Linked DNA regions of Homo sapiens: region 1 is linked to region 2. The links come from fine-mapping of genetic effects on gene expression. A gene starts in region 2. The other region holds a variant in brackets. All regions are shown on one strand. Distances are between the middles of the regions. Region 1 overlaps SRRM4 (serine/arginine repetitive matrix 4). Region 2 holds the start of SRRM4 (serine/arginine repetitive matrix 4).

Region 1 (8,328 bases), 180 kb before region 2:
GGGTCCCCCATCATGGTATTTACAATGCAAAACAACAGCCATCAAAAGAACTAAAAAAACACACACAGAAACTTTTACTCCAAAAACAGCAACCACAGATAGAAGAGAGATGACATTTCTGTCAGTATCATTGGCTCACTGGTGCAGAAGTGAGAAGAACGAGACTTCAATAAAGCATTGCTCAATGACATTGAATCTAGCATAAGTTTCTCAGCTGGACTCGGCTGGCCAGTGCGGGAGGAGGCATGTTTGGAGGAATCCTGTTTTTTGACTTCGTTTTACTGAGACAAAATTTTCTGTTCAGCTAAAGGGGAAAGTGGGGCAAGACACATGCGCATGAGACCATTTTGAACATTTGTGAAAAAGAAGAGGGGAAAAGAAAACAGCAGAAGAAAAGATGAAAGTTGGACTGGAGAAGGAAAACAATGTGCTTTCTTTGCCTTTGAGAGCACCCTGAATTTTGGCCTCTCCAAGCAGACCCTTTTGCAAAAGAGGATGGGTCTGAGCAAATGAAGTGATGCGGTTCTCTGAGACTGAGACCTTTGTTCTAACATCTTAATTTTATTCTGCTTCTGAAAGATCAGCTGTCCTTCAAAGAAGGGAAGGAATGCAGATAGGAATATGATCAAACCTCAGTGAACCAGAATGTTACTAATAGGGGGCTTTGAGTTACTTAGCCTTGCCTAATTAACTGAAGGGAGATCAAATCTTGCTTTTCGTTTTTACTTTCATGATGGACAACCTCCTAAAAATGTTTGAGGCTCTTTTCCTTTTCCCTCTGAGTCTCAGTGAAGCTCCCTCTGTCTTTGGTGACACTCTCAGGCCTCAGGCCAACATTTTGAATTTTTATCTCACAAATCCCTCCACTTAACAGAGGTCGAACTTTGCCCTAGGGAAAGGGAGCAATGTATTCAGTTTCTGTCATCCAGTGCACTTCCATAGCGGGAAGGTCAAAGGCTTGGGATGCATGGCGCTTGACCTCAAGCCACATCTCCCTCCCATTTTGGATGTTGGTTTTTGAGATAAATCCTCACGACGAGCAGCATCCTGGTGATCTGTCATATTCCTTGGAAGCAGAAGGTAATGAGGGTGAAATGGGCGTAGGAACAGCGATACTGGGAATGGGAGGTTCTGGTTAATCAGGGTTACCAGTGCCTCAACAAGCACATTGTTTTTGGATAGAAAAAAAGGAAATGTAAAAGAAAGTAGAGAAATACACTGAGAGAGAGAGAGAGAGAGAGAGAGAGAGAGAGACAGAGAGAGAGACAGAGAGAGAGACAGAGAGAGAGAGAGGCAGAGATTTCCCCGAAGCAGGCATTTAAGCAGCCTTCTTGTAAACTTCACCCAGGAAAGGGGCACTCCCTTGCTTTGGGTTAGGGCTGGATAGTCACATTGCCAGGGAAACAACCAGGGATGTTGCAAAAGTCTCACCAAACCCAAAGCTGGACCAGACAAGCTGGCAATTGCAAGGCAGTGGACAGTGACTTTGGAAAGGGCAAGAGCTGTCTCCGGCCAGCAGCCAGAAGACACTGCCAGTTGGTCAGATAAGCAGGACTGATGACCTTTGGATCCTGGGCCCTTCCAGGATGGGTTTGGAAATGACCTTCTTGGTGGGGTCCTGTGGAACATCTGGCTGCTCCTTCCACCTTTTTTTTTTTTTTCCTAATTTCAGAAATAGCTTTGTGCTTTCCCCTGATGAAACAGCAAGAGATCATAGATAAAAGCTTTTGCTTTTGGCTTGGTGGTTCTCAAGCAAGATGGCTGATGCCTCTTCCCAAGGTAGCCTTCAGATCTCAGGGGACAGAGAGAAATTAGGTACTGTGGAGTGGAAGCATGTGTAACATACATGAAACCAACTAGGTGTGCTCAGAGAAGCTAGGGAGTGATCCTGCTATGTGCCTTGGAGTGAGGGTGAGATCAAGGTGCATCTTCCCTCAGTCAGCTCAATTCCTGCCTCCATTCTCATGGTGTGAGCACCTTGTCAACCCCAAGTGCAATTCCAGTACTAAACCAGACATCATTTTCATCCACCATGGCCCTCAAAATACAAGGCAACTACTTCAGCAAGTACTCAACTGAAGCCTCATCACTCTGTTAGGAGATAGCACATCTGTCTCCAATCTGGTGCCTCCCTAAGGGACATTCACAAGGGATTTCGACTTTGTGCAGCCTTGGCCCCATTTGCCAACTTTCGACTCCAACCCCCACCTAAGTTGCAACTCCACTGTGTCAATTCATCACTGTAGCTCATAAGCCTCTGGGCTGTTTACATCTTTTTGATACCCCTGTGAGGTTCCTGGGGGACAGGAGGCTGGGGTACAGGCCTGACCCTCCTGGACGCTGGGTTAAGTGATGAATTTTGGGACTGATGTGCCTCCTTCTGGGCCAACCCCAGGGTGTTCCAGGCTTAGAGCCTTCAGGGAGAAGGCCAATAGCCCACTCACCTTTGGCCTCTCAAATCCCATCCATAAAAAACAGCAGAAAAAAAAAGGAGATGCACAGAAATAATTTAGGAGATCCCCCCAACACACACACACACACACACACACACACACACACACACACACACACACACAAAACCTCTGTATAAATAAATAATTCAATACTGCTAATGGCGAGAAAGAGAGACAGTCATCAAATAAATAAATAGATAAATAAATAAAATAAATAAAAAGGTTTGCTAGGAGCCCCAGGCAAAATGGTCCCCTAGAGTTGTCTTGATGAAGGCAGTCCGAACGTGAGGTTCTGATGCCTCTCACAGCTGTCCTGCTAAGAAGGTTTTTGGTGGCTCTGGGAAGCCTTTGTCTCCATGGAGGGAGACTGAAGTCCAGTCTGGGTTCCTGGGCAGGGACGAGGGTTATTTACAGTGGCTGTACTTGCCCTCCCCGGGGCACCTGCCCCTGTCCCAGGCACCTGCCATCTGGCCTTCTGCAGTGACAGCACTGGCATCCATTAGTCTTTGTGGGCAGGGCTTAGGTCTGGGCCAGAGGCCCGGTATGGGGAGGCTGGGTCGTCCACTGCTGCCCGGGGCCCTCACTCCTGTCTTCTGATGGAGGAAGGGCTGTCGTGGTGGTGGTTGCATGGCAGTCTCTAGCCCCATGGGTTGATAGGATGGGAAAGATTGGGTAGGGAGACGTCACTGCTTCCAAGAAAAAGGACTATTTTCCAAATGTTTTCCCTGGGGTGGGAGGGATAAAGAATGTTTGGCCCTTGCTTCCCCATAACCCAAAATATCCAAAAGCTGGGACCGGTCCTCTCTCCCTCGCTCCCTCCGTGCCCTGTCCTGCTGCTGTTGCCACCACAAACTTGAAACTCACCCACAAGCCTCCGGAAAGCCAGTCAGCTGGTGAGGGGGATGCCCAAGAGTTTATTTTAAGGATCTTATTCCTCACCTCCCCGTTCTTAGCGCCTTCTGTGGATGAAGCAGCTGGTGGTATTTGTGGATCGGAGATCAGCTTACCCTCTCTGCCCAGCCCCAGCCAGGGGGGACTTGGGGTGAGGGCAAAAATAAAGGTGGGTCTTTCCCAAGCTGACAAGAAACCTCAGAAGCCAGCAGGAGCCCAAGACATGGCATATCCAAGCCCCTCTCCCCTGCACTCTGGATT[C/T]GGGTCTTTTCCCCCAAACCTGAGCTGCTGTGCCCCATCCTGGCAAAATTCCTGAGAGGCAAGGGGAGTGGCTTAAGCTGAAGGGTGGGTGGGTAGGTGCCAGGCTGCACTGGGTGGCATCCAGGGCGTGGCAGCCTGGGCAGAGGGGAGGGGGCTGGCAGGCGCCAACCGGAGGGTAAGGCCAGACTGGCTGGCGCTGGGGCCTGGCAACTGGCCATGGCACTGGGGAATGTTCAGCAGATGGTCCCGTGGAATTAAGTTGGTGCCAGCTAGTGGGGCTGAGGCATATTTGGGAAGTGGGGCTGGAGACCAACCTGTCCTGACTCTTCCACTATCTCCTTTCTCGTGAGGTTGCAGGGCCCCTGTGAATGGCCAAGAGGTGTTTTGTGTCAGCCATGCAGTGGCCTCTTCACAGCTGGGATCTGCTGGGCTCTGTCCCCTTACCATGCTGAGGTATTGGGAGCAGCAGCTGAACCCTTCCGTTTTTCTATCTATCATCTTAACCAACTCCTATCTCCTGACACCTCCCACCAAGTCAAACGTCCCCATCTGGTATTCAAGGATATCCCTTCTTCTAGGACCCAAATGTCTTCCAGCCTTTGCTTGGGCCTGTTTGAGGAAGTTAAAGGCCTGACCCCGTTATCTTGAACCTGAACTGCCATTGGTCTCCTCTTTCACCCCTCTCAGACATGGGGGTCCATCCACGTGCAGCCATGAAGTTGGACTAGTGGGGCATCCGGGGAGGTGGGGAGAATTACCACGGGCCTCCTGTGAGCAGTGGAGGAGAAGAACTGTCTCCACATTTTCCTGGCCAGGGCTCAATTTTTGAGTCACAGACCCATTGCTTCTCACAAAACCTTGAAGTTTTCTTTTCTTTCTTCTTTTTTTGTGCCACAAGATGATGGTTCTTTCCATATGCCCAGGCCTGAGCTGGGCCCCAGGATGATGCTGGTAGAGGCTCCTAGCAGGCTGATCTAGAGAGTGAAGCCCCCTTACCCTCTTCTCCTCTTCCCCTAGGCAAGCAGGAAGGACAAGGTATAGGAGCCCTCACTATTTGTCACCAAGAAGGCGGGGAGGGCAGGTGGTTGGGGGAGGCTGGCAGCGCGAAGGGGCCCCCACGGGCAGCTGGCTCAGGGGCACTTAGCGCCTCGTGCTGGAGTAGCTGTCTGCTGAGCTGTAGCTCCGGCTCTGGCTCCTGCTCCGGCTCCGGCTCCGGCTCCTGCTCCGGCTCCGGCTGCGGGAGCCCGGACTAGGGCTGCGGGAGCTAGAGCTGCTGCTCGTGCGGGTCCGGCTCCGTCTCCGGCTCCGGCTCCGACTCCGGCTCCGGGAGTAGCTGCGGCTGGCCGAGCGGCTACTGCTGCTGCTGTACCAGGAGGAGGTGCTGCTGAGGCTGCCGGATGAGGAGGGGCTGGGCCGATAGTAGGGGATGGGGCGTTTCCGGGCACTGCAGAGACCAGAGAGAGGAGGGATGAGGGCCGGCCCCTCCGTGCCTCCCCGCAGCGAGCCCCAGTCTTGTCCCAAGGGAAACCAATATCCTCCCTTTCCCCAGTCCCTTAGGAAAAAATACTCCCTTTCCACTTCTCTTGCAGTGCTGAGAACACATCAAAGTAAAAGTCTCAGCTTAGTGCTAGTATGTCTTGAAAAATGATTATCTCACTTTTTTCTTTCCCCCATGAAGCAAGCCTGGAGCTCAGAGCCTTCAGCTTGCAACAGAATCTACATCTAAACTTTAATCATAGTTTTGTTTTCCTATTTTTACTTTTACTAGAACCATCTATTTATGGCAAAAGAGGCTAATTTTCCATTTACTGTACTGTATCGTTTCCTTTAGAAATAAATGTATGAACCTTTGAAAAGAGTCATATCTATTTAAAGAAAATTAAGAATAGTACAGTTGATAAACAGACAAGTCATATGTGGTCAAGATACTGGTGAATGACTAAAGATTGGGAAACACTGAATGGGTTAATCAAGATGAATTATTTGAGATTGACTAAAGAAACTAGACAGCCATTTGGAAATGCCACTCTCTATCTTAGCTTTCCTCTAGGTTGACCCCAAAGATAATAATAATACCAACAACTTCTATTTTGTGCTTATTATCCTGGCCACTTAATAGCTGTGTGACACTGGATCAAGGGAGTGGGTTTAGAAATTATGCTAGGAATTATATTGTATTATATTATATTAATTACATTTTTTCAGACAGGGTCTCGCTCTGTCACCCAGGTTGGAATGCAGTGGTGCGATCTCGGCTCACTGCAACCTCCACCCCACTCCAGGCTCAAATGATCCTCCCACCTCAGCCTCCCAAGTAGATGGGACCACAGGTGCACACCACCATGCCTGGCTAGTGTTTTGTATTTTTGGTAGAGACAGGGTCTTGTCATATTGCCTAGGCAGGTCTCAAACTCCTGAGATCCAGCAATCCGCCTGCCTTGGCCTCCCAAGGGTTTAGGAATTCTTTACAAGCTGAGGCAGGGTGCCCTGTGGGATATTGGAGAAGGGGACCCATCACCCCAGCCTTGCTATCTGGGAAACACATTCTTTTTCCTCCTCCAGGTCATCTCCAGGGAGAATCCCTGATTCCTCAGTCCAGTGTCTGGACTGAGTGGCAGATGCCTGGAAGGCCAGCAGGAAGAGCCCAACCCAATCTTAGGGCAGCATTCAATCATTCTCCCAGCTTTCAAGGCCTGAGAAATTTGCTTGCACTCAGACTTCTCTGCTAGAGCTTTTCTCTTCTGAGGCCTTACCTGTTCCAGGAACGGTATCCACCTATTCTGACCATTCAATCAACAATGGCACATTGTGTACTCTGCATTCAAGTTTACAAAGCACGTTCACATCTTTTTGCCCCTTTTCATTTCATCCTCATGCTTCTGGGAGTTATTTCTTCCAATATCTCATGGGTGAGAAAACTGAGGCTCAGGAAGGTAAGAGCCTTTCCTAGGTCACCTGCAAAGTGGTACATTCAGGATTCCAATCCACATCCAGTGCTCTCCGGCTTATCCACCGTGGCTCCCTCTAGGTCCCTTTGGGAACTAAGCAATCCTGTTTGTCCTTTCCACACTTGGTTCAAGGTATAATTACATATAGGTTTATTTAAGCCTGACAGCTGAGTGTACAGGTCTGAGGGTAGAGGTCTGTCTCCGCTGCTCGGGATCCACCACCAGGCCAAGGTCCTGCTCCATTGCTTTGGCCTCCATTCCCTGGCCTGACGCCACTCTCTCCCCCAGCTCCGCCTCCCCGGCCCCAGCTCCACCTCCCCGGCCCCAGCTCCACCCTCAGGCTTTGGCCACTCCCCCATGCCACACCCGATTCTTCAGGCTGGCCCCGCCCCCTTCTTGCAGGCCCTGCTGGTTGAGCTGGGAGACTCAGTCCCAAGGCTTTGAACAGACACGTAATTTCAATGATGTTGGGGTTGGGGGGACCATAAGCTCGCACAATCCTAAATCCCAGCCCCAAGGAGGCCTAGGGAGAGCCTGAGGCTCGAATGAGTAAGAATGGGAGTGGGAACGAGGATGAAGGTGGGTCCCCCTTGCCCCCTGGCCTCACCTGGTTATCCTCCGGGCCTCCAGGTGGCTCGGGGAGTCTCTCCGGCGCTTTCTCATAGGCGAGTAGGACCGACGTCTCCGACGCGCTCGCTCGCGCTCCCGCTGCTGCGAGTCCTTCTCACTGTATTTGGGATCCCGCTCCCTGAAGGGGCGCGGGGGGTTACTGGGGAGCTGGGGCTGGGCTGGATTTTCTGCGTGAGCGCGTGGGAGAGGGACACTCCCTTTCTTTCCCACCCCACTGGGTCACGGGATGGGGTCTGCACGTTGCCGCAAGGGAGACCGGAGGGAGGATGACGGGGCTGCGGTAAGAGTCTGCGAGGGTTGTTAGTACCGTAGGGGTGGGGGCTGGGCTTGTGCAGGGGTGTCAGCATTTGCAGGTGGGCATCATAGCAGGGCAGGTGCTGCAGGGGTGAGGACGTGAATGTTACGCAGGCCCTGGTGCGTGGGTAAGAACTGGGGGCTCTGAATATGGGGACGGTCTGTAGAGGCTGAGGGCTGGGGATGTGAATTCTGGGGTATGTCTGCGGGACTGTTTGGGCTGGAGACATTAGGAAACAAGGGTATTTGATGCCTCGCTGCCACTCCTGATTGGACAAAGGGAACTGTAAGAATGCTGAGTCAGGGTCAGACCTAAGAGGAAGAAGGCCCGAGAACGGGGAGGCGGGGCCAGAGAGGAGGATCAGAGCAAAGGGGTGGGGCCTAGGACGGGCCTAGTTTGAGGGGCGGGGCCGGTACCTGCTGGGGCTGTAGCGGGAGTAGCTAGGGCTGCGGCGGGACCTAGAGCTTCTGCTGGGCGGGCTCCTCTTGCCAGACTTGGAGGAATAGCTGGGAGAGCGGGAGTAGGACCTGGGGGAGAGGTAACAGCCTCTGAGGAGCCTGCTGAGTGTCCGCCTGGGTTATCCAAGACGGCTTGAGCTTTATTCAGCGGGTCCCTGGGCAGTGACCTTTTTCTTTCTGGAAGCCAGGCAGAGGAACTGGGCCCCGATCAAAGAATGAAAGCCCCTCCCCACCGGTGGTTAATAATAATACCAACAACTTCTATTTTGTGCCTACTATCCTGGCCACTTACTAGCTGTGTGACCTTGGCAGATGATTTCGTTTCCCTGGGCCGTTTTCTTGTCTATAAAATGCAGGTAATAATAGTCCTTACCCTAGACAATTGTAAATTG
Region 2 (8,328 bases):
GTTGTCTGAGGGGTTACTGTTATTATTTCTATTTTCAAGCTCAGTGTGGTAAAACTATTTGTTCAGGATACACAGCTAGTAAATGATAGAACCAGGACAGGAATCCAGGTTGTCTCATGCTCAAGTCTGAGCTCTTAACCACTATGATATACTGCTTCCCACTCTGCTCTACTGTTCTGACATTTGAGGCAGACATCTGGTTGCAATTTGATACATTATAAAGCTATTGCCTCATCAAGTATGCCCCACAGAGGGGTAGAGGAGAAAGAGAGACTAAGCAGGGGGTTGCTTAGATTGCAGTTGCATGATGTATGCATATTGCTATGAAATCAATGAATTGAATATATGTTTCTATCCTGGTACTAAATTACCTTGAGAGATAGACTTAAAATATCCTGAGGAAGTTTATTCAGAGGGGTGGCCTTCATCTATAAACAAATATTAAGTGTGACACCAACAGGACTGACTAGTGGTTCCTCCACCCACTCCCTGCCATCCCCCTGCAGACTGCTACATGTGCTGGTTTGCCGACTGTGATCTGGGCTTGACTCATGGAACTAAACGACATTTCTGATGAGACCAAGTCCCCAGATTGCCTCTAGAGGAAGCCACCCAAACCCAGCTGATATTGTGCCAATGCCTCTGTCTTCTTTCCTCTTGAGAACTCAGCTTTGGAAACATGGTACTTTCACCCTTAAGTAAGTGTAGAATGTTGAAAAGGAAGTGGAAATTGAATGTCACTGGATGTGGCTGGCTTGGGTGAGAATGGGGATGATTCAGGTTTTATCCAGTCTGTTAAAAGACAACTCCAATCCAACCTTTCCTGAGGACTTGGAAACAAATGTTCCCTTCTCACTCTCTACCCCAAACCAGGAGTAACAGTTATAAAACCGGAATCTGTTCTACAGAGAGGCCACGCCTATTACAGAAGTATTACACAGGATTCTCCTAGCGTGACATAAATCCAGGGCTTATGGTTCAGGCTTTCACCTCAGGGGTGGTTTCTAGGGCAAAGGAGACCCACGACATTAAAAGGCACCAAGAGTGAAATGATACTGGTTGCAGAGGGGGAGTGGAGTATTATAAAAGTCTCAGGATTACATTAGAATTAGCAAAAAGCTGCAGAAAGGATGAGGGTTGAAAGACCTTGTGGGCCATTCATGTGATTGCAAATATGACCAAGAAAAGGGCAGGACAGTAACAGAGAGACAGACAAAAGTGGAAAGTACCAAGCAAGGCAGATAATAGGTGTGCTTTCCTGAATCAAAACACCACCAAGAATCCGCTTTCCTCTCCCTGCACCCCTAAAATAGATGGAAGACTCTGGACTAAATGCCATACTTCTAGTTTCCTGTGAAATTTCCTCTAGTTCCTTCTACAAGGGCATTTTCTTTGGCCAGTGCAGCACCTGATTAGCCAACAGTAGGTACGTTCCAAAGGTGGAATAGATAGCAGAAACCCAGGAAGATAAAAACCACTGACGTCAAAACTCTATACACAGAACCTCCTTCGGAGCAGAGAAGCATCAGCCTTTAATGGCATTTGGTATTATTGTTCCCCTTCTCCAGCCTGTGTCAGTGGGTGGGTGGGTGTCCCCTCCTTCCCGTCTGCAAACACTGGCTGGTGCTGCTTTAGCTTGAAGCCTGCTACACCCTACTGGCCTGTTGTGATGCTTGGCCACCCATTCCTAAATGGGACACCTATTTCTCTAAAGACCTGTATGATCCTCAATAAGACAGTGAAGAGGAAAACTTCTCCAATCTGGCTTTGATTCTTCAGACATAATTTCCCATACGTCTTCCACCTCACACTCACTGGAAAGTTCAGAATCAGTTGTGCCAGAACAGACGTTCAGTCTGTCCTAAGCACTTTTGCAGACATGTTTTCAATCTGCTCCCTAATGCAGACTGCCAGGATTAATAAATCCTCCAAGTGGTCCCCCTGGTCCACTTCTTTCTTTTCTCCTACTAAACCACTCATCCAACACCAGCAAAAGATGAGTTTTCATACTACCTTGATTTTCCCTGACAGAGAGCACAGCCTTCTTCCCTTCATTCTTAAACTCCTCTAAATTGAATGATTTATGAAAAGAATTGGATTTTTCTCTGTCTTGGAATGCTTCCATTTTCCCCCAACCTCCTCTCCCTCTCACCCCACCTCCTGTTCCCCTGTTTCTTTCATTTCTTCCCTTATTCTTCCTTCCATCAGCACCATGTCTACCACCATCCAAGGATCGGTTCTCATCCCTGAGTTCAAAGCAATCAGATTCTTTTTGGAAAAAAAAAAAAAAAACAAAAAAAAACAAAATAAAACTCTTCCAAGATCATCTTCACGATCTTGGAAGGCTCCTCCCTGACTCCTGAGCTCAGAGTCTTGGTTTTGGATGCTGGAGAGGAGAGAATTCAGCAGCAGCGGCAGCAGCCGCCAGAAAGGCGTGGAGGAGGGTGCTGTTTTGGGTGTATTTGAGGGAACAGCATATGGGCTTTTGTCAAAAATGTTCAAAGCTCGCTAGTTTCCGAGCCGAGGATGGAAATGTGTGCTATCTCTGAACGCTGCTTGAGCTGGCTCAGTTCTCCTTTTCTGGTACAACACCCCCCAAACATCTCAAATCCACCATTCCTTGGCCCACCTGCCCTCTGGACTCTGTGACACCAAGAAAAGTTTTTCAGTCAAGTCGTACCCCATCTGCACCGCCCACCCTCAGGTAGCAAAACCTCTTGAATAGGAGCTACGGGGGTCCAATAAGCGTTGCTTTCCCCCAAAGAATTCCTGTCCCTTCTCACCATCTTCCACCTCACACAAGCAATGAGTTCCCATGTTTCAGCGGGAGCCGCCGAGTAGTGACGGGAAAAGACAGGCGCCCTGGCCCGGCTGCCTGCATCCACCCCTCCGGGCTCTGGGGCACAGGCCAGAAAGGAGGACCTTCAGGATCCCCCCTTCTAAGAAGGAGATCATTACCTTGGCAGCGGCTTGCGGGCCGTGATACTGGCGACAATGATGCTCTCGGGACGGGGGGTGGCCACCGCTTTGAAGGTTCCTCGCCAGAACTTCTCAAAAAGCTGCTTCTCGCCTTGCTGAACGCTCGCCATCGCCAACCCAAAGGGGCCGGGGCGTCCGGGGCGCTGTCCAAAGTGCTGAAACGTGGATTCCAAACGGGGGCGACACCCAGCTCCCGGCTCTGTCCGGGTGAAACCCAGAGAGGGGTGGGGTGGGAGAGATCGGAGTTCAGGGCGGGGGATGGGACGCCCCAGCCCGGGCAGGCAGCAGAGAAAGGAGGCTCGTCCGCTGGGCTTTCTTCGCCCTTCTGGGTCGGCTCCAGGCTGCGCTCTGAGCTGGCTGAGCCTCTGCGCCCCAAGAAGGGAAGGGAGGGCTGGCTTTCTGGGCAGCACCAGGAGAGAAGAGGCGACGGGGTCGGATGTGTGTGCGTGCGCGTGTGAGCTCCGGCGCGCCCGGGTTTTGTCTCTCGCACAATGTGACGTTGGAAGAGGAGGCTGGTCGCGCGAGCTGCACTTTCCTCCCCCCTCTCCGTCTCTCCTCCTCCCCACCAACCCCCTCCTCCTCAGGCTCAGCCTCCTGCCGCCATCTGCATAACAAAAGCCCGCAGGTCTTGGGAGGAGAAAGGGCGGGGCGTGCGCCTGTCACCAGGGCCCCGCGGCGACCGAGTTGCAGCGCTGATCCCTCTGAGAAGCCATCCTGGCACCCCAATCTGCGCCAGGCAGGAGATCCTGCTTCCCAGGCCCCTCTCCTCTCCCATCATCGCTGGCCTTCCTCAGCCCTTTCCTGGGTGCCCCCTTTGGGCCAGGCCACCTTTCTTTCCAGCCCCTTCGCAAGTCTTGTAGCTGATCTTCTGCGTGGGGGGGGGGGGGGGGTTGGGGGGGCTCGTAAAAAACTTAATCTATCCACCCCAGCCGGCCTCCCCCAGACCCTCACTTTTGGGAGACACGGCCTAGGCCGGTACAGAGGGTGCCCTGCGTTCCTCTTTGCGCCGGGGGTTAGCGAGGTCTCCACCACCCAGAAAGTGCCATTTGATAGACAATCCCTCACCAATTCGGCTTCTCGCCATCTGCCGAGCAGGGCCCCCGCCCGCCAAGGGGCGCAGCGTTACATCTGTGCATGCGGAGCTGTCAAGGGTATCTCTTTTGTGTCTCACAGCCGGCCTGCCCAGCGTCCCCGCCGCCAACCCCGTCCAGAGGAAAGAGTTCCCATCTCACCCCACCCCACCCCCATCCACTCCTGGGGAATCCGCCTGCAGCCACTTTTCCTAATGCCGCTAGTCTCGGGAAAGGAGTACGTTTTGGAAAAGAAAGCGCTTAGTGGGAGGGTTGGAGAGGAAAATCTCGAGGATTAGCAGGGGGATAGTTACTTTTCGGTCTCTCCTCCCCATCTCCTTACCGCCTCGCAGTTCAATCGTAATCCCAAGCAAGTGGAGGTTTAGAATCCCAAATCAACCCCAGACACAGAAGATCTGGTTAGAATGACTCTTGTTTTCCCCCAGGGTTTTCATTATAAAAAAAAGAGATCGTGGCGGGACCCCTCAGCCCTTGCCTTCCTGGAAGCCTTTTAATCTTAGCAGAGTTGTTACTCCCCCATCTCCCACCTAACGCCCTCCCCCTCCCCCCAACCCCGCTTCCACTTTCCAGGCTGTAAATTCCTGGAAGGAGGCCTCGCTCAGTCTTAAATGCCTCCAAGCACCTGGTGCTGAGTCCCAGTCACAGCGAGAATAAACTCCTGCTCTTTGCTAAAGCAGATAGCAATGGGGACCCAATGAGGGCGGGGTAGGGCGGGGGGGTCGGGAGAACAATGGGAACTCCAGAAATTCTCTGAAGGGGAACAGGAGGTAACTAGGAGGTGAAGATGAAGAGGCCAACAGAGAGGATAAGATGGGGCAGGAGAAGAAAGAACCTTGGAGTAAATGAGTACCCGCCCCAAAGGGTATCTACGTTTGAAGTGTGTGTGTTCGACACGCCTGCGTCCGCTTATTTGAGTGCCTGAGAGCGCTACTTGCTCTGCAGTGACCCCTTCTGGTCAACAACGAGAGGTGCATTTGCTGGCTTCTTATGTGGGTTGCCGGGGGAGAGGGCCCAGAGGTGGGGGTCAGGCCTGGGAAGGTTGGAGATGGAGCAAAGTGGAGACTAGGCTAACCCCTTCCCTTCCTCTCCCTCTTACCTTGCGCCCCAAATCCCCCATTCCCTGATTGGGCTAGACCCCCGTTTCCCACCCAGAAGTTGGTATCATTGTAAATGCAATCTAGAGCTGGCTTCTTATAGGTAGCAGACTGGCATCTTTAAAACTAACCTTAGTCATGACATTTAGGGTATGAACTGAGTCACTTGCAGGAGAGAGGTAGGTGGGATCCTACCCCCACAAGATCAGTCAACATCTTCCAGTTGTGTGCCTGCTCCTAATCCCTAAAATGTTGATAGAGCTCCCATATGCAAAACATTGCCTTTTTAAAATCCCATCGTAGCCAGATGAGGTGGGAGAGAAAGCTGATCTTATTCTATTTTATTTATTTATCTTATTTCAATAGCTTTAAGGGTGCAAGTGTTTTTTGGTTACATGGATGAATTGTATAGTGATGAAGTCTGGGCTTTTACATACCTGTCACCCGAATAGTACCTTACCCCCAAAAGGCCATTATTAAAAAGTAAAAAAAAAAAATAGATGGTGTAGATGCAGTGAAAAGGGAACAGTTATACACTGTTGGTGTGGATGTAAATTGGTACAACAACTATGGAAAACAGTATGAAGATTTCTCAAAGAACTAAAAGTAGACCTGCTCATTCTTTTATAAAGACACATGCATGTGTATGTTCACTGCAGCACTACTCACAATAGCAAAGACATGGAATCAACCTAAATGCCCATCAGTGATAGACTGGATAAAGAAGTTGTGGTACATATACACCATGGAATACTACGCAGCCATGAAAAGAATATCATGTCCTTTGCAGGGACATGAGTGGAGCTGGAGGTCATTATCCTTAGCAAACTAACATAGGAACAGAAAACCTGATACCACATGTTCTCACTTATAAATGGGAGCTAAATGATGAGAACACATGGGCATATAGATGGGAATAACACACACTGGGGCCTTTTGGAGGGTGGAAGTTGGGAGGAGGGAGAGGATCAGGAGAAATAACTAATGGGTACTAGGCTAAATACCTGGGTGATGAAATAATCTGTTCGACGAACCCCCGTGACACAAGTCTACCTATGTAACAAACCTGCGCTTGTACCCCTGAACTTAAAATAAAAGTTAAAAAACGTAGACCTGCTATTCGATCTTACTCTGTTTTAAACATGAAGAAGTTGAGGATGACCAAGTGACTTCCCCAGGGTGATCCTGTAGGAAGCAAAGGAAATTTGTGAAAAATACAGTTTCTGTTTTTGCTTGGTGGGGTGGAGGATGGAGTGGGATACTACGCATATCAGGATGGACCACCATTTAAAAATAAATCAGATAACAATGAGTCACATACTTAGAAGCACCTGGTGTTGAGGTTCCTAAATTGGGAGTCTGCAGTAATCAGTTCAGGACTTGGAATCCAGAATGCCTGGCTTCAAATTCCAGCTCTGCCATTTCCTAGCTGTGTAATGTTGGAGGAGGGATTTCACTTGCCTATGTCACAGTTTCTTTATCAATACTATGAAGAATTTTTTTTTGAGACAGAGTCTCGCTCTGTTGCCCAGGCTGAAATGCAGTGGTGTGATCTCAGCTCACTGCAACCTCCGCCTCTCAGGTTCAAGCCATTCTCCTTTCTCAGCCTCACTAGTAGCTGGGATTGCAGGCGCCTGCCACGACGGCCCAGCTAATTTTTTTTGTATTTTTAGTAGAGATGGGGTTTCATGAAGATTCTATAAAGATTATAAATAATATGTTTAGATGAACTAGCTGTGAGGATTGAAGGAATTAACACACATACAGGTTCTAGAATGTGTCTGAAACACAGTTTACTCAAAAATATCAATTACTCAAGTGGTTAAAAGCCCAGCCTGTGGATTTAGAGAGAACTAGGATATGAAGCCCAGCTCTGCCACTTTGTAGCTGTATGAGCTTGGGCTAATAACTAACCTCTGCCTTTGTTTCCTCATTTGCAAAAGTGGAGATATCACATCGTGGTTGGGAAGATTAAATGAAATATTACTGGTAAAGGACTTAATAAATTGTCCAGTTTATAGCAAGTGACCATTCAATGGTAGCTCTTCTTGCTCATGATCTTGGAATAATCACCTGTTACTATGTTAAGTCAGGCCATATTCAGTTCAATAATCATTAACTGATGCCCAATCTTGCATCTTGGCCAGGCACAGTCCTGGGCACGGAGGACTCAAAGACAAACCAGACATAGTCCCTTCCCTGAAGCAGTTCACAGCCTAATTCTCCTTCTGGGTCTCCACTGACTAACACTTGTCCCCTTTTCATCTTATCACAGTGACTTCTGCTTTAGGTCTGGCTTCTCCAATATAACGTGAACTCCAGTTCCTCCATCACTTTATTAAAATAGAACCATCTTGTGCCTCATTCCTTCCGGGTATTGCTTTCTGTTTCCCCAGATGCAAGCCAGCCCACCCCATAAACAAGGACCTATTAATATGCTGGTTAATGAATATAAACTTATGGCACAATTATTCCTTGCCCTCTGTGCTATACTGATGGTAGACATCACTGATCCTTCACAATACTCTTTCTCAGACCGACCCTCAGAATCCTTCTTAACACACAGTTTCTAGATAGCCACTACTAATAGTTTGGTCTTGGCATTCCAGATAAAATCAATTTGCCATCCATGTCTAGAGAATGTTTCTTTACCTGATTGGTATTGTTCTTTCATTTGAAAAAAGGGACAGCAGGGAGAAATGATTCTAAACTTTGCAAACCCAGGCACTCTAGAGCAGGAGCTAAGAAGATTCTTATGCAACCTTCTCCTTAGTGATCCAAAGATACAGCACCTCCAGCTCAGAGAAATAGCTACCCCTTCTCCTGAGGCAGTTCAAATCCCACCTCACTAACATTACCATGTTACCTTGGGTAAATCTCTTAATCTTTCTGTGTCCACGATTTCTCTGAGTACAATGGAGCCAACCATTATCTACCAGCATCAGAGAACTTGACAGTCTGTACCCATTTCTAAAAGTCCAGGGAACAGCAAAAGATTCAAATAATTACTGAGATGATGGGAAATATGATAATGAGACCAATTCATCGGTCTTTATGTCTTTAAACAAGATCATGCTAAACCATTCAAATTACAAGATTATTTATTTGGGGAGAAAAATATGATTGCACTACTCAATGTTTATCAATCCTCACTTCTTGACTTC

What was found.
Region 1: its variant is fine-mapped to the expression of SRRM4 in lung (TOPMed, PIP above 0.99).

The regions. Positions count from the first base shown.
Region 1 is chr12:119,153,216-119,161,543 of GRCh38, reverse strand. It overlaps SRRM4 (serine/arginine repetitive matrix 4), which reads right to left. Exons shown (of 13, transcript NM_194286.4): 11 at 7,895-8,005; 12 at 7,161-7,301; 13 at 1-5,049. The coding sequence ends at 4,746. Among named protein-coding and RNA genes, the nearest start is that of HSPB8, 22 kb to the left of the region's middle. RefSeq lists enhancers at 6,842-7,372, 7,373-7,905. The variant C/T (reference allele first, on the strand shown) is at 3,606.
Region 2 is chr12:118,976,644-118,984,971 of GRCh38, reverse strand. SRRM4 (serine/arginine repetitive matrix 4) reads right to left here and starts at 3,431. Exons shown (of 13, transcript NM_194286.4): 1 at 2,959-3,431. The coding sequence starts at 3,089.